Homo sapiens: one gene and its partners. The protein of the gene in region 1 purifies or fractionates together with the protein of each later gene. This does not show direct contact. Each region holds a gene or a part of one and is shown on either strand. Other genes may lie near its edges.

Region 1 (3,639 bases):
AGTACAAGTTCCCAATATACATAACCTTGTATAGTTAGGCATTTTTTGGCATACTTTCTCTGCCTGTGTCATTTTTACTTCAAGTTAATTAAAAGAGATATTGGAGCATAATAAAACTATGTATTTTCTAATATACTTTCTATTTTTGATCAAATGAGGTTCCCTCTTTCAAAATTAAATTATTATAATTTTATTGTAATCCCATTCAAATATAAGGCTACTGTGCACCCCATTTTTTTAATGTCATCTGCATCAGATATTTGTCATTTTAATATTTTCCAGTTCCTGTCAACTGAGAATGGAAAGATGGTGATGCGCCATTCACAATTTTTTGGCAGACACTGCTACTTTTACCAAACAACCAGAAAATAAACAGCTATCAATAACAGCTAATAAATAAAATAGTGTATCCTGTGGACTATTTTGGGGGGATGGAATCCAGGATTATCCTATACTCAGAATGGCTTGAGGACTTGTTATTTGAGTTGTAAATAGCACATGATGTTTTATGTGGCACATGTTTATTTCCATTGAAAGAGCATGTCCTATTTTTGAGGAAGGAAAGAAACTTGTAACTTCAAATGTTTGTTGCAAAACAATTTGATGAAATAAATGTAAATGAATCAGAAACATGTGAATTGTATTTCATTAAAATTAATGGGTTTAAATGTGAAGGGGGTAAAATGCTTGGGGGAAAGAGTGTGGTAAGGCGGGAAGGGATATTTGTTTTGTTTTCATCAGTCTTGGATTCTTGAAAAATGGCTTAATAGTCTGAATTTCATCTCACTAAGATTCTCTTAAGCCTAATGGTGGAGTTACAGAGTGGAACAATGAAATGCAAATTTATTTTATAGCTTTGTGTGGCTCCAGTTATAAAGTATGCATCAAACATTGCCACTATGCAGTCCTTCAAAATAACTTTCAATTTGAAGTTGGTGGTTTTTCTATATAATTCTTTAAAGGGTAAACAAGAAATTGTAATGATGCTAAAATACATTTTTTATCTCTCAGACTCGTACATAAACTTCACATTTCCTTTTTCTAACTGAAGATGATCTGATCACCTAAACGGAAAACATGTGAGGGCTCAATGTGTAGACATATATGCAGGAGATGGGCAGGAGGAGAAGACACTGGAAGAAAGGGAAAGAGTAAAAGAAATAAAAGGAAAAAAAGACATGAGCAATGCAGGCCGAGCTATACCATCAAACCTAATTCATAAGTAAAGCACTGAAATCTCACTAAGTATTTGAGAGCCATAACCATTTTATCCCATAGTTTATGTTCAAATTATTTATGGTTGCTTAAAAACAAATACATAGCTTATTTTATATTTTGTATTTTCAATTAAAAAATCATCTATTACTCTGAAAATGAGAAAAATATCAACTTCAAAAAAGAAAAAAAGGTTTACAAATGAGTCTCCCTGCCTCAAAATCTGAGTAAGTTTGATGTGGGTTATGACATTTTAGTTTCTCAACTTCCAGTCTTTGAACACAGGGACATTTTTAATGTTCCAAATACTTCCAAGAGGCAAGGGGTGCACAAATGGGTATATATGTATGTATAACCCCTGAAATCTTCATTTTCCTAAACTCTGACCACCTTCTGTATTATTTCACATGTATTTTTTTTTAAGATAATATATGACACTGCTGAAGTAGCCTTCTGGACATACCCCTAGGTAGAGAAATGTATGAACAGAGGTTCTTTCTTTACAATAGAAGGCGTAGTAGCCTGTGGGGCTATTTCAGGTCTGTAAGGAGTCTGCTTTTGTGCTTCCTGGGAATATAATGATATAATTGGAGCTTAGCATCTCTCTGGCTGCTGGGAGCTCAACTGCTGCTTATCACCGTGTTTGGAATGAGGATCCTGTTCCTTAGTGTCTTTGTGCCAAATAATTCACTGCCTCATACTGTTCTGGAAATGTTTCTCCTCCTTGCTTTTATAGGCAGGAACTGAAAGGGTTCACTTTTAAAATATTTGTTTCATAATTGGGCAGGAGATACATTTTGGCTTCTAGCATAGCCCTTTGTTGTTTTATTTAACATTTCTCTCATCGTTCTTTAACAGGTGAAAAAATCGAGTGGCTAAGATGGCTGTGTCATTTTTACCTTACAATAGCATCAATGCAATAATTACAACTGCTCTTGAGACCCCAAAGTCACACATAAGGGTCCTATGAATCAATAAAAGTCTAAATTCTAACTCTAGCGTTGTGTCAATGAAAATATACAAACAGCGTCAGCTTTATCTTTGTCATCAAGCAATAGATATTTATAAGGTCCTCAATTAAGTGTGACTACTTAGGCTCTAGGTTCAGAACATTATGATGATGGTATAGTTCCTTCCGGGTGAGATATATTGTGATTCATTTTCTATCATGATTTGCTATAGTAATGTTTCATAAGTGAAACACGATCTAATCCTTTACTTCTGGTGTTGTTCCACTTGATGACAGGCCTACCCTTGTAGCAGTGATAAGGAGTGTGAAGTTGGGAGGTATTGCCACAGTCCCCACCAAGGATCATCGGCCTGCATGGTGTGTCGGAGAAAAAAGAAGCGCTGCCACCGAGATGGCATGTGCTGCCCCAGTACCCGCTGCAATAATGGTAAAAGATCTCACTAAGTGTTAATGGGCCTCTTTCTTTTCATCATCATAAGCCTGTCTCTCAAGTCAGGCTATCGTCTCCTTACTCAGACTCCTGAAATATAAGAAGCCTGGTAGAACTGGTTTAGGTAGTGTAAGATTACCTGGATTACCTCCCCAAATCTTAGTTTTCCTAGAGTCTGGCTACTTTCTATATTTTATGACCTACACTGATCTAGAATATTGCCATGTTGAAGTGTTGTGTATAAATAGCAAGATGTTCTATTTCAGTAAACACATAAGTGAATGCATGTAAAAGAACCAAAGAAAGAAACTTGATATGATTTAGTAATGCAGTTGCAAATATCTATTCCAGTTTTGTGCTTTGGGTTTAGTCAAGATGTTCTGTGGCTCAGTCTTATGGTAGTAGAGTGATTGGTTCCTCCAAAGGGAGATGCAGCATTTTATTCCCCAACCTGGCTTCATCCAATATCAATGAATTTATAGGCAGACAATTCAGTAATAATGATGAAATGGATCACAGACAAGATGTGGCAAAAACATTAAATAATTGCAGAAGGTAATTAGAAATATATACTTAATCATATAAAACAACATAATCAGGCTCATTTTCTCATGCCTATTCCTGACCTCTGGGTGTAGACCTACTGTGAGTCTCTTGCACAGGAGGTGAAGGGAAGAAGACCTCACACCATTAGAGAAGTTTACAGTGTAAACTAACATTATGTTGTTAATTAATAAAGGAATCTGGATCCAGAGGATGTATGTCTGATCAGATTCTTTAAAAATAGTAATAGCTAACATTGATTCTTCACATATATTCACAATAACTTTGTGACTATATAAAATTATGCTTTTATTCCCAGTTTTGTCCAAGGTCACTTGGTCTTGAGAGAGACAAAATTCATATTAAAGAAGTTTCACTTTAGGGCCAAAGTATGCTCAGTCTCAATAAATAAGTAAATGAATGGATGGGTGGATAGATAGATAGATACACAGATAGATAAATGGCTTCATATTTCACATCA
Region 2 (3,639 bases), on another chromosome or scaffold:
TCTTTTAAAACCAGCATATTGCCATCTACTGCTGATAAAGTATATTCCAGATTTGCATCAAATGGATTTATGTAGTTCAAGTGTTTATGGTAGATGCTAGTAGAAAAAGTAGTGAGAACTTCTAGATAGGAACCTCTAATTTTTGTTAAACACAAAGCTTCAATTACATCCTGCTGGGACACCACTTGACTTTTTGGTTGTACAGGAATGGGCCAGGCCCTATAAAAACACATATTTATCTGTCATTTTCCTTCCAGGTTACTTAAAAATATAAAACACACAATAACTTGACATGCCCTAAAACAAAAAGGGATAATCTAATCTACAACCATAAATTGAAACATGTTCCAGTTTATTTTTTCTCAAAAACAATAACCATGATAATCAACATGTCCAGCATACACAAGTGCACAATATTTCTGTTTTGGATATTTCCTGAAATATAGTTATCAGGAGTCAGAAGAAATGGTTACACTATTGAGTTGATGTCCTGCCCTACAGTAGAAGTATATTTATGATAATGTAAGAAGAGAAATAGTTATCCCTGCATTACGCTACTTTCTAATGTAAAAATAAAGTGATGTTTCCCAATCTCATCTCATGATAAAAAAGCTTATGTTCATAATAATTGTAAAGCACTATGAAATAGATGTTCTGGAGATGTTATATGTCATTCATTAGCATTCTTATATAATAGTCAAATACATTAAAGCAAAAACATAAAAGCATGCAACTAAAATAAATCATGTACAGCTATGAGAATGAGTAGAGAAATGCATTATTTCTATTTAAGGAGAATATTGGGAGAATAATTGAATATATTACTTAGTATAATTAGATATTATATTAGATAAATTTTGTTTAAAAAGCAGGTGGGGAAAAGGTATGGACTTTCAAATATACAATGGTATTTACTTACAATCAAGCCACTGTTTGCTTGCCTTTTTTCTCTGCCATGGATCCTTTTGTAGAAAATTCCGCCTGGATTAAACTGAGTACTCCAAATAATCATATCTCTTTGATAATATACATCCATCCCTGTTATTCTTGAATTATGTTCAATATGAGAAATTTGTTGATGATCGCCACTGTAGTTGAATGGATATATAAAACCCAGGATATCAGTGTCATTAGCAATGTAGAGAACTTGATCTTCAGAGCCTGGAGATTATTATAATAAAATACAAAAATAAAGTAAATTTCAACTAATGTTAAAAGCAATAATTGTACTTTTAAATTATCTTGAATTATTATTCTTAATACAGTTTTTCCTCAAAAATCAACCAGTTTTATATTGTCTTTTAGTCTTTATGGCTTATTATTTCTGATACTCACTTATCTAAACATTTACAATAATTATTGATAGAGGTTTTTCTACTGCCAATCTTTCCTTATGGCTAGAAATTATGTACATATAAATGTCCTTTTATGAAGAGAGATTATTATTTGATAAGTCACAATACACTAGGTTATAATGCATCAATTGTCAATATCCAAGTACTATGTTGTATACTCATTAAGCTTCAAAAGTTTCTGATTACTTAATTTATGCACCTGAGTGATCATTACTTTAGGCTAAGAAATAAAAATTAAAATATGAAGAATCTTCCTCTTACTGTATTTATACATCTTAAATGCTTACTAACTTTTAACATAAAAAGATATCAGTATTTATTCCATTAAAGTTCTATAATCTCTAAATTATCTAGAATCCTGCTAAGTGTAACATTCTATTCTAAAGTTTTGACACCTACAATAGAGTACTAATGTCATTTTCATACTAACAAGTAAAACCCTAAAGCAAATGCCAAAATTATCAATTAAAATATTAACGAAGCCCTAAAGAGATGTTCGATTGCATACATAGTTTCTGCAAATAAATAATAATAATAATACCTCATGAGGTGCCTTTCAGCTCTGTAATGTTAATAGCTGTCACTTAGCAAATGCTTATTATGTGTCAGACGCTATGTTAAGCCTTTCACAGTTTATCTCCACTTCTTATAACTATGGAAACTGAACTGAGGCTCTGACACTTTAGTGAATTCCTTGAGGCCACACAGTCTAAAAGGTGCTGTGCTGGGATTCAAATCCAAGCATATCAAATGCTATAGCCCACAGTTGATCCATTACATCATCCTGTTTTCTTCTTGTAATAACAATCTTAATAATGTCCAATCATACTTTGTAGCCAACAATATTGAAGTTACAGTATTATTTAGCATAAACACATGAATATTAAAATCTATACCTACAATTGCCCAGAACCCTAGTTTATCATTTAATCTTTTTTTGTTTGTTTGTTTTTCTTTTTTTGAGATGGAGTCTTGCTCTGTCACCCAGGCTGGAGTTCAGTGGCGCAATCCTGGCTCACTGCAACCTCTGCCTCCTGGGTTGAAGCGATTCTCCTGCATCAGCCTCCCAAGTAGCTGGGACTACAGGTGTGTACCACCACGCCTGGCTAATTTTTGTAGTTTTAGTAGAGACGGGGTTTCACCATGTTGGTCAGGTTGTTCTTGAACTCCTGATCTCGTGATCCACTCGCCTTGGCCTCCCAAGGTGCTGGGATTACAGGCATGAGCCACTGCACCAGGCCTATCATTTAATCTTTTTAAAAAATAATATTGGTAAGTGGAGGACTTCTAAATTTGAAAGCAAGATCTTGTTTTAAAACCTTTAAAATCCTTACTCAAAATTCCTTTCTCCTTATAATGCTAATGTTTATTTTTATCCCTGGGGTATAATTTTTCTCATATTCCCTTAGAGCAGACCATCAAGAGAGATACTTCACATTCTATCACACTGGCTTTTAAAATTTTACCCCTTTTGAAAAATTGTTTTGAACACAATGACACAATGTGATTTTAACAGTAACCATATATTTCATAGTCATTTCCATAAACCATCTAAGATTAAATTCATTAATATTAACTAACCAACTGGCCAAATTAATCATCATTAAAAGTATTTTATCAGAAATGAAGCTGTTGCTGGAATGAAATATAAAACATTTTTCTCCATAAAATGTTTACAACAAAATTGTAATAGGATTTGCAATAGTGGTTATAATCTTACCTTCTGCTATGCAGGTGTTATTTCTTTCTTGAAAATTCTGGTCACACACACATTTATATGATCCTTCCACATTTATACATTGATGGGAACATGTGCCAAACACCAAACATTCATTAAGGTCTAGAAAAGAAGAGCTCAAAATAGCATCATCATACCCTCAATTCAGACTCCTATTCTTACCACGTTTCAAAAAAGCCAAAATTATTTTTAACTTATTACTAGCTTTATTGTCCTTTCACATCTTTAATCTGTGACCTGCTGTGTCATATTTTTGAAGGTATAATCATTTTTCACAATATTTGTAGTAGAAGATTTATCAATTGTCATTGCTTTTATTAATCCACTTAAAATATTAAAGCTTCAATTTCAAACTTCCCTGGGGCTTTCTTTTTTCTTTCTTAAAATTTTTACTTATTTATTTTTTTACCTTTTAAGTTCATGGATACAAGTGCAGGTTTGCTACCTAGATAAACTTGTGCCATGGGGGTTTGTTGTATAGATTTCCATTCACGCAAATAGACCTGTCTTGAGGTTTTCTTTTAAGCTGTTTCTGATGACCTACCT
Region 3 (3,639 bases), on another chromosome or scaffold:
TAATTGCTTCCTTTTATTCATATATAAAAATCCCTTAGATCATGAGATATTTTATTAGTAATTTTTTTAAATGCCTGGTCCAGTATTATATTAACTTAGTTGTATTTATTCATGCACATAAGCTTGAATAACCCCTCATTTTTATCACTCATCTGAGTAAAAATACCACTCATAATTAGTGGTATTATATGTTTTGGAATATAATCCAATTCTACATAAAATCAGTATCATTGAATCAAGCTTGGTGAGTAGGCATCACTTAGAAATATTAGCATGTAGGCAGGGCGCAGTGGCTCATGCCTGTAATCCCAGCACTTTAGGAGGCTGAGGCAGGCGGATCACCTGAGGTCAAGAGTTTGAGACCAGCCTGACCAACATGGTGAAACCCCATCTCTACTAAAAACACAAAAATTAACCAGGCATGGTGGCGTACGCCTGTAATCCCAGCTACTCAGGAGCCTGAGGCAGGAGAATCTCTTGAAGCCGGGAGGTGGAGGTTGCAGTGGGCCGAGATTAAGCCACTGCCATCAAGCCTGGGTGACAGACTGAGACTCTGTCTCGAATTAAAAAAAAATTTAAAAAAAGGAAATATAAGCATGTATTATGAAAATCTAAGTACTATAATAAGAGTTTATTGCAAAAAGTAAATATGGAAGTATGGTTAAATAAAGCTTTAATTGGGTTCCTAACTCCCGTTCCTGAATAGAAATTACTATTTCTGAGGGTATAGATAAAGCAGTAGTCAGCAAACTATGGCCCGTGCGTCAAATGCAGCCTGTTGCCTGTTTTTGTAAATAAAGTTTTATTGTAACACAGCTATGCCCATTTATTTGTGTATTGTCTATGGCTGCTTTCATGTTACAGTGGCAGTGTTGAGTACTTGTGAAACCATATGCTCTGCAAAGCCTAAAATATTTATTATGTGGCCCTTTACAGAAAAAGTTTGCCAACCCTGGATTAAAGGATTGGAAATGAGCAAATGCATACATAGCAAGTAGAGTTAGGTAATGAAAAAATGTATCAGTAACATATTTCACATTGGCCTGATTTCTCTAGAGGTGGTTTGAATCAGATATAGGAACAAAATATGTGTGTCTTGGTAGTAGCATTGATAGTTCAACAACAGACTTTCAACTACATGAAATCAATAATTTGTGGTCATTCTCTACTTATTATACTATCTTCATAAAGTTATCTTTTTATTCTAGCATGTACATAAGGCCCAAAGGGAAATGGACTTTTGGTCACTTTTAGAAGGTCCATGGGATGAAAACACCTACATTAGTTAGAAAGACTAAGGAAAAACTTCATGTTAACCTTAAGTTCAAAGACCATTTGATAACATTAATAACAACCTGAGATGCTGCTGGTGCTCCCTCTTTGCTACTTTTATCACATTGGGATGGAAGTTGTGCTATGAAAATGTATATTTAGAGTGTTTCAAGTAGGTATTAAGCATTTAGAGCTTCAGATAGAAAAGGAGGGACATTCTGGAAAATATACCTTTCAGTAGAAAGTGGGTTATGATGTTGCTATGAATTCTAATCTACTTTAGAAGCTGAAGATAGGCACTTTCTCTCTAAATTTGAAGACACAATCTCTATAATTCCTAGGAGTAAGAACTTATTTTTCTAAGCCTAGACTGGGACACTATCATCTTGGAAAAGACAACATATAGTGACCCAGACTTCAACCTTATATATTTTGTTCTGAATTTGTAAAGTTCTCCCTTTTTTTCTTCTTGGTTCTCCATTGATCAGCATGCACTTTCATTTTTCCCATAGGAAATCTTTATTTCACCAATGCCTTTGTTTCTGAAACACTGATAGAAGTTCTGCGGATCAATACTACTTACCGCCGTGTTCTTCTTAAAGTCACAGTGGACATGCCTAGGCATATTGTTGTAGATCCCAAGAACAGATACCTCTTCTGGGCTGACTATGGGCAGAGACCAAAGATTGAGCGTTCTTTCCTTGACTGTACCAATCGAACAGTGCTTGTGTCAGAGGGCATTGTCACACCACGGGGCTTGGCAGTGGACCGAAGTGATGGCTACGTTTATTGGGTTGATGATTCTTTAGATATAATTGCAAGGATTCGTATCAATGGAGAGAACTCTGAAGTGATTCGTTATGGCAGTCGTTACCCAACTCCTTATGGCATCACTGTTTTTGAAAATTCTATCATATGGGTAGATAGGAATTTGAAAAAGATCTTCCAAGCCAGCAAGGAACCAGAGAACACAGAGCCACCCACAGTGATAAGAGACAATATCAACTGGCTAAGAGATGTGACCATCTTTGACAAGCAAGTCCAGCCCCGGTCACCAGCAGAGGTCAACAACAACCCTTGCTTGGAAAACAATGGTGGGTGCTCTCATCTCTGCTTTGCTCTGCCTGGATTGCACACCCCAAAATGTGACTGTGCCTTTGGGACCCTGCAAAGTGATGGCAAGAATTGTGCCATTTCAACAGAAAATTTCCTCATCTTTGCCTTGTCTAATTCCTTGAGAAGCTTACACTTGGACCCTGAAAACCATAGCCCACCTTTCCAAACAATAAATGTGGAAAGAACTGTCATGTCTCTAGACTATGACAGTGTAAGTGATAGAATCTACTTCACACAAAATTTAGCCTCTGGAGTTGGACAGATTTCCTATGCCACCCTGTCTTCAGGGATCCATACTCCAACTGTCATTGCTTCAGGTAAGTGCACTCCAGGTGCTGCTTGTCCTGCAAGTAGACACAATGGGGTCAACACACATGGATGACTGAGTGTTTCTAATGCATATGAGACTCTAATGTCTTTGTGTGTGCTTGTGTGTGTGTCTGCCTGTATGTGTCCAGGTATAGGGACTGCTGATGGCATTGCCTTTGACTGGATTACTAGAAGAATTTATTACAGTGACTACCTCAACCAGATGATTAATTCCATGGCTGAAGATGGGTCTAACCGCACTGTGATAGCCCGCGTTCCAAAACCAAGAGCAATTGTGTTAGATCCCTGCCAAGGGTATGCCATCATCTTCCTTGTTATATTTCTGTCTGCTTATTTCTGGAAAAAATGGGGCCTGAAATTATGTTCATAGATAGCCAATGTGTTATGGGCTTATAAAACTATGGCTACAGATTCAAAAATGAAAGCATATTGAGTGATTTTACGTGGGAAGGAGGGTGCAGCGCATAGCTCCCTTTGATGGCAGAAAGGTTGGCAACATACTAGGAAGTCAACACCCTGACTTACTAGATCTCCTTTGGACAAGTTGTGTAAGTAGAAATGAAGTTTCTTTTGCCATGTTACTGGCAATTTGCAATTAAAGAATATTGTCCTTTTTTTTTTTTTTAAAGGACTATGAGGTTCCCTGTGAATTAATTATTGACTCCTTTTGTATGACTAGGTACCTGTACTGGGCTGACTGGGATACACATGCCAAAATCGAGAGAGCCACATTGGGAGGAAACTTCCGCGTACCCATTGTGAACAGCAGTCTGGTCATGCCCAGTGGGCTGACTCTGGACTATGAAGAGGACCTTCTCTACTGGGTGGATGCTAGTCTGTAGGTGTCTCTGGTTACTCATGTGGGTGTTAAGAAGAGGTTTTTCTTCCATTTCCAAAGAAGAGGGATTTGCATCATGTGAT
Region 4 (3,639 bases), on another chromosome or scaffold:
TACTCGGGAGGCTGAGGTAGGAGAATTGCTTGAAACCAGAAGGTGGAGGTTGCAGTGAGCAGAGATCATGCCACTGCACTCAAGCCTGGGCGAAAGAGCAAAACTCCCTCTCGGGGAAAAAAAAAATTGTAGAGACAGGGTCTCACTATGTTGCCCAGGCTGTACTGTGTCTTAATTTTTAACAAGTATAAAAAGTTAAAATTTTTTTTTAATAGAACATAAGGGGCCAGGTTCAGTGGCTCAGGCCTGTGATCCCAGTACTTTGGAAGGCTGGGGCAAGAGGATTGCTTGGGCCCAGGAGTTTGAGGCCCACCTGGACAACATAGTGGGACCCTGTCTCTACAAAAAAAAGTGTTTTAATTAGCCGGGTGTAGTGGTGCACACCCCCTAGTCCCAGCTACCTGGGAAGCTGAGGTGGGAGGAACTCTTGAGCCCGGAAGACCAAGGCTGCCCTTAGCCATGATCGCACCACTGCACTCCATCCTGGATAACAGAGTAAGACACTCTCAAAAAAAAGGAAGAAAACAAAGTTTATAGAATAAAGATACAAAGAAAGAAAATATTTTTTGTAACCGCCCAACAGTATCCACATTTGTCCAACAATATGTGTTTTAAGCTAAGTTTTATTGCAAAGGAGTCAAAAAGTTTAAAACAATTTAAAAGTTTATAAAGTAAAAAGAGTATGCTACGGTTAATTTGTTATTGAAGAAAGAAGAATATTTTTAATAGATTTAGTGTAGCCTAAGGGCACAGTGCTTATAAAGCCTACAGTAGTGTACAGTGATGTCTTAGACCTTCACATTCACTCCCTGCTCACCCACTGACTCACACAGAGCAACTTAACAGTCCTGGTAGACTGCATTCATGTAAGTGCTCTTTACCATTTTTAATCTGTCATGCCGTATTTTTGCTGTACCTTTTCTATGTATAGATACGTTTAGATACACAAATACTTAACACTGTGTTTCAGTTTCCCGCACTATTCCTTGCAGTAACATGGTGTACATGTTTGTAGCCTAGGAGCAGTAGGCTCTATCATATAGTCTAAATATGTGGTAGTTCATAACATCTAGGTTTGTGTAAGTACATTCTGTGATGGTCACACAACAATAAAATTTCCTAAAGACATTTCTCAGAACGTATCCCTGTCATTAAGCAGAGCATGACTGTATTTGTGACTCATAAACTGCTGTTAATCTTATCCATCCAGTGTTGGATCTTATATGTTTGGCCATTTCTATAACCCTAGGGCAAGAATCCCTCCTTCACCAGCAGGTGAAGAGGAGGCAACAACCTCATAAAGTTTTTCCTCTTCAGTAGCAGTGACCTGAAGAACATTGTCTGTTGTCAGTATCTAAAAAAATGTAGTGCCTTGGCTACTTCTGACTTAGCAGAAATCACTTCTATGAAACTTGGAGACTTGTGTTTCAGAAGAATTGTGGATTCAAGGCAGTATTCAAAAGTTATCCTTGAAGATAGGCTCTGAACTATGGCAAATTATAATGTAAATCTTTGTTGATCAGTTTCCTTTACTGTTTTTATTTTATTTATTTATTTATTTATTTATTTTTTAGATGGAATTTCGCTCTTGTTGCCCAGGCTGGAGTGCAATGGCGGGATCTCAGCTCACTGCAACCTCTGCCTCCCGGGTTCAAGCGATTCTCCTGCCTCAGCCTCCCGAGTAACTGGGATTGCAGGCATGCGCCACCACGCCCAGCTAATTTTGTATTTTTAATAGAGATGGCGTTTCACCTTGTTGGTCAGGCTGGTCTCAAACTCTGGACCTCAGGTGATCCACCCGCCTCGACCTCCCAAAGTGCTGGGATTATAGGCGTGAGCCACCGCGCCCAGCCCCTTTACTGTTTTTAAACCTTAGTATCTTAGTCCTTAGGAGAAAGGACGTTGTCACCCAAACAACTCTTAGACAGTTTACAAAGGTGATTGAAGGTGGGTTCATTTGCCTGGGGTTGACATAGAAAAATATTTCCGAGCTTATGATACCCTCCCTTTTGTGTGTTGCAGACGAATCTAGAACATGATGTCTATGAAAGACTTACTAACCTGCAGGAAGGGATTATCCCAAAGAAAAAAGCAGCAACAGATGATGATCTCCACCGAATAAACGAACTGATACAGGTTTGAGTGCGCCCCTTCCCTTCTGATCATCTACTTTATGAAGTTGCTTTCTGTAAAGCCCTACTTCTCCCGTTTCCCCCCGTCTCCCTCATATCTTCAGTAAAAACATACGTGCTTCAGCCTGCACTCCTGAGAAACAAAAAGACATTTTCTCTGTTGTGGAAGCCTCAACATGGCCTCTGCCCAAAGGCAAGCAGTTTTTTAAAAGCTGTACTATCCTCATGGTCACTGATTGATGATGCAATGTCTTCTGTTTCAGGGAAATATGCAGAGGTGTAAACTTGTGATGGATCAAATCAGTGAAGCCAGAGACTCCATGCTTAAGGTTTTAGATCATAAAGACCGTGTCCTGAAGCTGCTTAACAAGAACGGGACTGTCAAAAAAGTGTCCAAATTGAAGCGAAAGGAAAAAGTCTAGACCCAGAACAATCAGGAGATTGGAAGCAAATTTATGAAGAATGATGGTGGGGGTGGGGGGAGGGTTTTGGTTTTTTCCAAAGTGGAACATTGAAATAAAGGAAGTGTTCCTTAGTTCCCGTGTGAAAGCAGAGGAACCCATGACATCCAAGGGCGTGAAAGGATCAGAGCTGACTGGACATAGTGAGCTGCCTTCTTGCGTTCGGGTGCACCCCTGTTAAACCTGATCTGTGTCATAAGTGACTCCGGATGCATCAGTGTCCACCAGTTGGAAGCAATGACAAGGATGGCTGGCTGGTGTTTTTCAGCCTTCCGGTTTATAGACTGTATTTATCTAGTGGATTCCTGCAGGCCCCATACTGAGCCTGGACTGAAAGTATCCACTCGGACCATCTGTTATCTCTCTACACTGAAAATAAAACCTCTTCCACCCACCCCATTCGGTTCTTCTGCCTGACCTTCAAATGCCCATGTTGGCCTTTTACAGCAGTGCCACGGCACCAAGCGAGCTGCCACATCTCACACTCTAAAGGGTTTGAACTATTAGTTCTTGTCATTTTTTAAAAAAAACCATTCCCAAGTGAAATTGTTATATCGTCTGTCTTGCGTGTGTCAGAACTGGGTTTTTGTGGAGGTTCAGAGCAGGCAACACCATAAGTTGCTCTCAGATCCTTGTTCTGAAGTACATTCTTGGTTATCTGTACTTCTGTAGCTGGTGTGATGCTGTTAATTGTATGTACCACACATCTCCAGACGTTAATAAAGGACTCAAAGAGGTTTTTGTACTTGCGCAGTTTGCATCTTTTTGTAAAGTGAATCAGTGCCATACTGACCCTCACTGAAATGTTTACCCTGCTTCAGTTTTTCACACATTGTTGGGAGCCTACTTTGTTTGTTGAAGTTATGCTGTTCGCATAGAGTTCCTCTTAGAGGGTAGTCTAAATATGCTACAGTGGTGAAACCTGTTGGATCTTGGCTCCCTTAAATACGAGCCTGTATTGTGGCCCAGTGCGGATAAAAATTGGTCCGATTACAGGACTATTAAGGCTGCAGTACTGGGGGCGGAGCTTTCGGGCGGGTGGATCC

The links. The genes of interacting proteins can lie anywhere in the genome.
Region 2: the proteins of DKK2 (region 1) and LRP1B purify together in Homo sapiens (affinity purification with mass spectrometry; one large-scale study listed by BioGRID and IntAct). This does not show direct contact.
Region 3: the proteins of DKK2 (region 1) and LRP2 purify together in Homo sapiens (affinity purification with mass spectrometry; one large-scale study listed by BioGRID and IntAct). This does not show direct contact.
Region 4: the proteins of DKK2 (region 1) and SAP130 purify together in Homo sapiens (affinity purification with mass spectrometry; one large-scale study listed by BioGRID and IntAct). This does not show direct contact.

What each region holds. Positions count from the first base shown.
Region 1 is NC_000004.12:106,924,772-106,928,410, reverse strand, and holds part of DKK2 (dickkopf-related protein 2 precursor), read left to right. Parts: intron 1-2,461; coding exon 2,462-2,612; intron 2,613-3,639. UniProt on the Homo sapiens protein: Antagonizes canonical Wnt signaling by inhibiting LRP5/6 interaction with Wnt and by forming a ternary complex with the transmembrane protein KREMEN that promotes internalization of LRP5/6.
Region 2 is NC_000002.12:140,349,878-140,353,516, forward strand, and holds part of LRP1B (low-density lipoprotein receptor-related protein 1B precursor), read right to left. Parts: intron 3,196-3,639; coding exon 3,076-3,195; intron 1,162-3,075; coding exon 920-1,161; intron 1-919. UniProt on the Homo sapiens protein: Potential cell surface proteins that bind and internalize ligands in the process of receptor-mediated endocytosis.
Region 3 is NC_000002.12:169,205,396-169,209,034, reverse strand, and holds part of LRP2 (low-density lipoprotein receptor-related protein 2 precursor), read left to right. Parts: intron 1-1,784; coding exon 1,785-2,705; intron 2,706-2,846; coding exon 2,847-3,012; intron 3,013-3,397; coding exon 3,398-3,556; intron 3,557-3,639. UniProt on the Homo sapiens protein: Multiligand endocytic receptor. Acts together with CUBN to mediate endocytosis of high-density lipoproteins. Mediates receptor-mediated uptake of polybasic drugs such as aprotinin, aminoglycosides and polymyxin B.
Region 4 is NC_000002.12:127,940,921-127,944,559, reverse strand, and holds the end of SAP130 (histone deacetylase complex subunit SAP130), read left to right. Parts: intron 1-2,022; coding exon 2,023-2,136; intron 2,137-2,395; coding exon 2,396-2,554; 3' UTR 2,555-3,338; downstream 3,339-3,639. UniProt on the Homo sapiens protein: Acts as a transcriptional repressor. May function in the assembly and/or enzymatic activity of the mSin3A corepressor complex or in mediating interactions between the complex and other regulatory complexes.